Homo sapiens: one gene and its partner. The protein of the gene in region 1 interacts with the protein of each later gene in a biochemical or structural test. Each region holds a gene or a part of one and is shown in the gene's direction. Other genes may lie near its edges.

What was found. The genes of interacting proteins can lie anywhere in the genome.
Region 2: the proteins of BAG1 (region 1) and RARA form a complex in vitro, tested with the Homo sapiens proteins (one study listed by BioGRID).

Annotation. Positions count from the first base shown.
Region 1 is NC_000009.12:33,262,617-33,266,361, reverse strand, and holds the start of BAG1 (BAG family molecular chaperone regulator 1), read left to right. Parts: upstream 1-1,653; 5' UTR 1,654-1,687; coding exon 1,688-2,138; intron 2,139-3,531; coding exon 3,532-3,660; intron 3,661-3,745. Other genes in the region: CHMP5 (charged multivesicular body protein 5), read right to left, coding at 248-352, 1,215-1,283. UniProt on the Homo sapiens protein: Co-chaperone for HSP70 and HSC70 chaperone proteins. Acts as a nucleotide-exchange factor (NEF) promoting the release of ADP from the HSP70 and HSC70 proteins thereby triggering client/substrate protein release.
Region 2 is NC_000017.11:40,307,615-40,311,359, forward strand, and holds the start of RARA (retinoic acid receptor alpha), read left to right. Parts: upstream 1-1,565; 5' UTR 1,566-1,672; intron 1,673-3,745. UniProt on the Homo sapiens protein: Receptor for retinoic acid. Retinoic acid receptors bind as heterodimers to their target response elements in response to their ligands, all-trans or 9-cis retinoic acid, and regulate gene expression in various biological processes.

The DNA of each region.
Region 1 (3,745 bases):
TAGCTGGGATTACAGGCGCCTGCCACCATGCCCAGCTAAGTTTTTGTATTTTCAGTAGAGACAGGGTTTCGCTATGTTGGCCAGGCTAGTCTCAAATGCCTGACCTCGTGATCCACCCGCCTCAGCCTCCCAAAGTGCTGGGATTACATGCATGAGCCACTGCGCCCAGCCGAACTAGGCCCTATTTCTATAGGTGCTAAAACTAGGCTCTGCCAGCACCTTGTGCAGCAGTTGCTGCCCACCTTACCTTTGCAGGACCCTCTCTCATCTTCTTGATCTGATCCTTATACTTCACTAGCTCAGCATCCAATCGAGAAATCTTCTTGTCAATGGATTCTGCTCTACTGTCCACCTTAGGGGAAAATATCAAATGCACTGGTAGTTACTGCAATACACTTATTCCAGAAGGGGCAGGTAGAGAGGAAGGAATACAGAGGAAGAAAAGAGGAGCTTAAGGGGAAGGGTGAAAAACAGTGGTTCACAAAGAAGGGTATTCCCAACCAGAAACCCTGGGCTTTATAAATTATTCTCTTACCCCCCGCCACACTGCCCCGATTCTGATATACCAGGTAGCCTTCAAGTGGGTTGGGGCAGAAAATAATTTGAGAATCACTGAGTTGAGTTGGAATTTCCCTAGAATCAGAGACTAGCCAGGCTGAGAGTTCCTCCAAGAGGCACATGAAATGGGCCAGTGCCAAGTGAAACCAGCTGATTGTAGATCTAATGCCATTCCCTAAATCGGGGATGGTGGCTTAATCTGAGGGGCTAGGGTTCTGAGTTTTGTGTTACTGAGATCCAGGACGAAGGCACAGATATGTTGACCTAGGATATCAAGCTGAGTCCTGATGTGGACTGGGGATGACAGATGGAAGAAGGGTAAGGGATCAGGCAGGATGAGGTGGGAAGGGTGTATGGGCCTAGGGCTGGGTGAGGTGAGAGGATCAAGGCGAGAGCGAGTGGACGGGCAATGGGCATCAAAACGGGTTGGGTGCTGGCAGGGCAAGGCAGTGATGGGGTTAGGGGTTCCCTGGTTTGTGGCGTTAGGAATGACTTGGGTAACAGGGATGAAGGGGAGAAGGTGAGATAGAGAGGGACGACGTGTAAGGGGCCCAGGACCCGAAATGAAGTGGAAGAATATGGGCCCGGGGCTGGGGGTGGGCGGGGTCGGGTGTGTCAGAGGTCCTGAGCCTACTTATGCATGATCAAATGCCCACCGTGCCAATGCAGTCAGTCAGGCTGGGCGGCGGAGCCTTGGGTTTCGCTTTCCCGAAGAGTCGGTTCATCTTGAGCAGCCGCGAAGAAACCCAAACACTAGAGCAAAACCAGAAACGGAAGCAGAGTCACTCCCGCCTCGACTTCCGGCCCCTCCGTGCGCAAGCGCAATATGCCTCCTGGCGTTTCCCGATTCTTTTTCCGGATTTTCAGCCGGGTCTTCCGGGGATGGAGAGCAAAAGGACTTGGTGCTCTCGGAGAGAGCCTGCAGGGGGCGGGGTGTTGGTAGAAGGAGTGGGAGGGGTTTTACTGTAGCAAGGCGGGGCCTCAGTTGAGTGGGTGGGGCCTGGAGGCAACTAACGCGGCATAGGGCGAGGGCGGGGCCGGCAGGCCGGGGCGGGGCTGGGAAGTAGTCGGGCGGGGTTGTGAGACGCCGCGCTCAGCTTCCATCGCTGGGCGGTCAACAAGTGCGGGCCTGGCTCAGCGCGGGGGGGCGCGGAGACCGCGAGGCGACCGGGAGCGGCTGGGTTCCCGGCTGCGCGCCCTTCGGCCAGGCCGGGAGCCGCGCCAGTCGGAGCCCCCGGCCCAGCGTGGTCCGCCTCCCTCTGGGCGTCCACCTGCCCGGAGTACTGCCAGCGGGCATGACCGACCCACCAGGGGCGCCGCCGCCGGCGCTCGCAGGCCGCGGATGAAGAAGAAAACCCGGCGCCGCTCGACCCGGAGCGAGGAGTTGACCCGGAGCGAGGAGTTGACCCTGAGTGAGGAAGCGACCTGGAGTGAAGAGGCGACCCAGAGTGAGGAGGCGACCCAGGGCGAAGAGATGAATCGGAGCCAGGAGGTGACCCGGGACGAGGAGTCGACCCGGAGCGAGGAGGTGACCAGGGAGGAAATGGCGGCAGCTGGGCTCACCGTGACTGTCACCCACAGTGAGTGTCGGGCGCCAGGTGGGCTCCATGCAGGTCCCGAAAGCCCGGCGGGGTCTGTGGGTTTAGTCACGTGTCCTCCAGAAGCGTGTGACCTTGCGCTTGTCCTGGCGTCCGGAAGCGTGGGTTATTGGTTGTGTCCGTGGAACTGTCTTTTGTCCCGGGCTTGTGTCTGTACACTTTTCCATGTGGCCGGTGTATTTTGTCTCTGGTCATTTGTGCGATCCTGGGTGTTTGAGCTTCTCCGTGCTTTACGTCGTGGGCCTGGTTGTGTTTGTGTGCCCGCGCAGTTATTGTGCCCTTTGTGTCAGGCATATATTGGGCCATGTGGTCTACGACTGCTCCGTGTGTGATAAGTCAGAACTTCGTGCATGCCGGGGTGCTCCTCGTGTGCTGAGTGCCTTCTCCGTGTGCGCCGCTTGAGTTGGCCGTGGGTCCAAGCGTTGTACTCTGGGCACCCTTTGGGTCTGCCTACTGTTGGAGTTGACACACCACCAAATGAAGTCAGTACACCGGAGAGCTGAGTCCATGAGGTTTCTCTAGAACCAGCTAGGGGAGGCCCAAGGGTCTGGGAATCTGGAGACCTGGATTCTAGATCCTGCGGTTTTGAGTGACCTTGGGATGGACGGCTTCTTCTAAGAATCCGGTTTCTCCTCTGTGAAGTAGATTTGGTAACCCTGGCTCCTGCTGACCTCACGGAGCTGTTGGGGGAACCAAACCTTGGTGTAATGTACTGTACACAGGCTCCCTCCTTGCTGTCCGCATCCCTGGAAAAGAATTGGCGTCTCTTCTTCAGAAAGAAAGGCTCTGCTGTTCGTATGCATTTGTCTGTTTACTTAGCACAAATCATGGATGCACTCAAGTGTGTTCAGTGGGAGAGACTTGGAGGAAAACAGTCACTTGCCCATTACAGCAAGCGAGACGAGACCAATACAATACAGGGTACAGGGCAGTCAAGCCACAGGAAGCAGATGGCTTGTGATGAAAAAGGTGGGCTTGGGAATCAGCTAGATCTGATATCAACTTCTGATTCCAACAGTTGAGTCTCCATAGGCAGTCCTTAACTTGCCTGAAGTCACAGTTTGCTCATCTGTGAAATAAGAAGTAATAGGTAGATCTACTTCGTGGGGTTTATCTGAGGATTAAATTAGATTATGCATGAAATGCTTAAAATGTTAGCAGATATCATTCATATTGTTAGTTATTATAATAGAGGAAACAGAGATACTTGAGGAGGTCACCAGAGGAAAGCTGGGTGGCATGGGGGCAGGCTCTGTGGAGTAGGTGGCATATGAGCTGGGCCTTGAAGGCTGGGTAAATAAATGTGATAAAGTGTCATCCTATATTGGTGTATGTGAAAGAATCATATTCGTCAAATGCTTTTCTTTCTCCCCAGGCAATGAGAAGCACGACCTTCATGTTACCTCCCAGCAGGGCAGCAGTGAACCAGTTGTCCAAGACCTGGCCCAGGTTGTTGAAGAGGTCATAGGGGTTCCACAGTCTTTTCAGAAACTCATATTTAAGGGTAAGCATTTCTTTTTCTTTCTTTCTTTTTCTTTTTTTTTTTTTGAGACGAAGTTTCACTCTTGTCGCCCAGGCTGGAGTGCAAT
Region 2 (3,745 bases), on another chromosome or scaffold:
AGTCTGGGTTCTGCCTACAGCTAGCTGGAGGCCAGCCTTTGGTGGTGGTTGATGGGGGGGTGGGGTGACCTCCATCCATGGGCACAAGGATATCCTGTGGCAGCTAGGCTTGTGCTTCTCTCTGAGCTTAGTTTTATCCTTAGTTTATAAGAGAGTATCTGTTTCCTTCCCCTACTCCTCTCCTCCCCAAATAACACTCAGCTCTTATTGAACTTTATAACTGTAGTGGTGGCCCAGCTGAGATCTGAGGATCTCCAAACCCTTTTGTAAACACTCATTAACTGCCTGGGAAGAACGAAGAGCCCTGTTTAACAGCTGGGAGAGAACTGAGGCACATTAGGGTGAAAGGTTTGACCTAAACTCACCCCATGGACTCCACCCTGGGGCCTTCCATCCTTAGTCCAGCTCCTTTACTCAGTTCTTCCTGCAAGACAGAGGTGGAGGCATTGCTGGTGTCTTCTCCCCTTCTAGGGAGAGGCCATGCCCTCTCCCCTCAAGTCTGTCGCTGACTTCCTCTGGCCCTTCCCCTCATGACGTTTTCCCTGCTCTGCTGCTAGAGATATGTGCAACTCTCCTTGCAAAATGTTCTCAATCCACAACTTCAGAATTCTTATCCAGCTTTCTCTTGCCCATCTAGCCCACCAAACCTGAATTCTCCCTTTTGAGCTACTGAGAAGACTGGCTATACTAAACTGAATCAGTGACCTTGAAGTTGATCTGTTGTATTGAGGTCCCTCTGCCCCTATATTTATCCTAAATGGTATCTAGGAAAATATTCTCTCTTTAACTTGTTTATTCTGGTCATAAAGATTCGGGACATTACTGAGGGCTGGGTAGGGGCACTAGTTGACCTCTAGGTTCTACGTCCTGTTCTTCCACTGACAATTACCATTTCCAGTAATAGGTGTAACCCAAAGTTCTTTTTTGTTTTTTTCTCCTTCCCTAACCCCACCTGTTTATACTCTTGCCTATATATGTGTATTTGCAGACCCCACACATTCCCAGATACACATACATTGGTCCTACATGTTTCCCCTGTTTCCAGCTGCCATCTAAGTGAGCCTGCACTTTTTACATGCTGAAAATCTTTTTTCACCCTCTATGGCCTCCTAGGTCCTTGGGAATAATTGGGAGGGATGAAGGGACTCCTGCAGTCCATGAGGAAGAGGACAGAAGTGAGCGCCCAACCAAAATGAATGCTCCCTTTCCAAAATCTCTAGCTGAATGCCTTAGCAGGAGTGGCAGGGAAAGAGATCTTAACCCCACCTCCAGCACCAAAACCTAAATCCATCTGCTCAGGGCAGGCAGGAAGAAATGTCTATTTTCTCCTGTTTCAGGTCATCCTATCCTCGAGTTATCCATATGCTGTGTATTTGAGACAGGGAACTGTTCCTGTCCCCAGCCGATGACCAGACGCCCATCTTTCTTCCAGTGGGTTACTTCTCCCCCATCAGTCCTTCGCTCTGCGCCCGCTGACCCAGTCGGGGCTGGCTGGTGGAAGAGGGCGGGGAGAGCCTTCTAGTTGGCGAGTGGGCTTTAGGACCCAACGGGAACCCGTGCCTCTTGCAGCAGCCTAACCCAGAAGCAGGGGGGAATCCTGAATCGAGCTGAGAGGGCTTCCCCGGTTCTCCTGGGAACCCCATCGGCCCCCTGCCAGCACACACCTGAGCAGGTAGGACCATGCACACCCCTTCCCAATTCTTTGGCCGCCTTTGACCCCGGCCTCTGCTTCTGATCTAGCCATTTCCTTCTCGCCAGTTCTGGCTTTCCCCATCCCTCCTCTCCCGTCGCTCACTGTAGTCCTGGGAGGTGGGAGCCTGGGAACAGTGGGGTGTCTGAAAGCTCAGAGCCCTCTGCACCCTCCAGCACCCTTCCTGCATTTCTCCTGAGGCAGTTCCCGTTCTCTAGATAAGAGTGGGGAGTAGGGGGAAGGTCTGCCCAGGCCCCACGCCCTTGCACCCTCCTTTGCGGTATTGCCTAATACCCCTTCCCCCACCTCACCTAGACTGGAGAATTGGCAAGTGCTGAGGTAACAGAGAGAGGAGAGAGCCAGAGAGGGACCTGAGCTTTCCCAAGGGATTTCTTTCTTGCTTCCTCACCCAAAGAGCTCAGGACTTTGCCCCTACTCCCTACACACCTTGTAGGGGAACTAATGTCCCCTTCCAGGTTCATCTCACACTTGGGTGGCTAAAGGCTTTGCTAGAGGGTAGTGGAGGTTGTGAGCATTTTGGTGAGCTTTTCCTCTAGGAAAGTTCTTTCAGCTTAGAGCCCCCATCCATGTCAACATTTCAACACCTGCTGCAGAAGCCCCCCGACCCCACCTGTGTGTGTGTGTGTGTAGGGACAATGTGGTTGTAAGATCTAGAAGCTTTGGATAGAGGTGGCTGCATGCATTGAAGGGGAGGGATACCAGAGTGTGGCCCAGGCCAGAACAGGCTCAGTCCAGATGGCTAGGGAAGGGGGTGTGGACCAGATTGAGGAGGTCACCCAGCCTTGCCAGCTCCCTGAGCTTCTTGGCTTTCAGAATCTCAGGCTCCTGGTGTTTCTCTAGAGCTACAAGGTCCCCAAGCTTCTGCCCCGCTACAGGCTCTCTGGGAGAGGGCTAGATGGCACCTACTGTTTACAGTGGCTTATTTTTCTCTCCTGTGGTGGGCAGACAGGCCCTGCTCTCTGAAGATCTAGGGCGTGTCATTCTGGTTTGGTGGGTTTACAGGAAGGGTGTACACCTTGTCTGACTTACCATGTGTGAGTGTGTGTCTTGCTTCTGGGGGTAGTAGACTGGGGAGGGGGGTGATAGAAGAGACTGGTCACACTGAGGGAACTCCTCTAGCAATCAATGTATGATAGGAATGGGTGGCATGTCCCCATCTGGTAGCTCTGTCTAGGTGTGGGGTGTGCTCTGCATTCTTCCATGGCTCCCCGGGTCCCCTAAAGGTTGGTTTTAGAGGACAGGGTGGATAATGAATTGGCTTCAGACTTCGTTCTGGTCTTGATCCAACAAGGAAAGTAGAGATTCTGACTGTGAGCAGTGAACTAGGAATCAGAGGCCTGAACTGGAGACTTAGACTGGTTACTTAACTATATGTGTTTATATAGGTCTTCCCCTTTGCTAAGCCTTAGTTTCTCCATTTGTAAAAATGGCTATCAGTAGCAAGCAGGGACATTGCCACTAAAACCACAGAGACAATGTATCGTAAAGCTCACTGCAAACGGTAGTAATGGCTGGGGGAATCTAGGATGGAATCCTCTTCCTAAATCTAGGTCAATCTCTCCGCCTTTAGTTTTCTTCCCCCATCCTTTGCCCATCTGGGGGATGGAGGAACTAGGCAGGGCTATTGCCCCGGTTACTGCAGAATTCCCCTAATGCAGGTTGTAGCTGTTACCAGAGCACCTGTGGTCACAGAGTACAGATCTCTCCACCAGGCATTTCTTCCTCTGGGGCCCCATACTTGCTCCCCTGAGCCATGTCTCCACCTTCCTTCTGCCATCCCTGCTTGGCGTCCTTGTCTCTCTCTCCCCTGCCCAGTGGCCTCCTTGTCTGGCTCACTGGGCAGGAGCCCTAATCGGATTCGACAGCTGAGATATGTGTGGCGGCTAAGAGCAGGCAGGAGGGAAGCCAGTGGGAGGATGGTATGAGGACTGCCCCTGGCACTGCCCCGGCCTCCCAAGCACCACCTTGGGCCTGCTGATTTCTTACTTGGCTTGGCCCCAAGGAAGGGGTGCCAGAGGAAGCTCAGGAATGAAC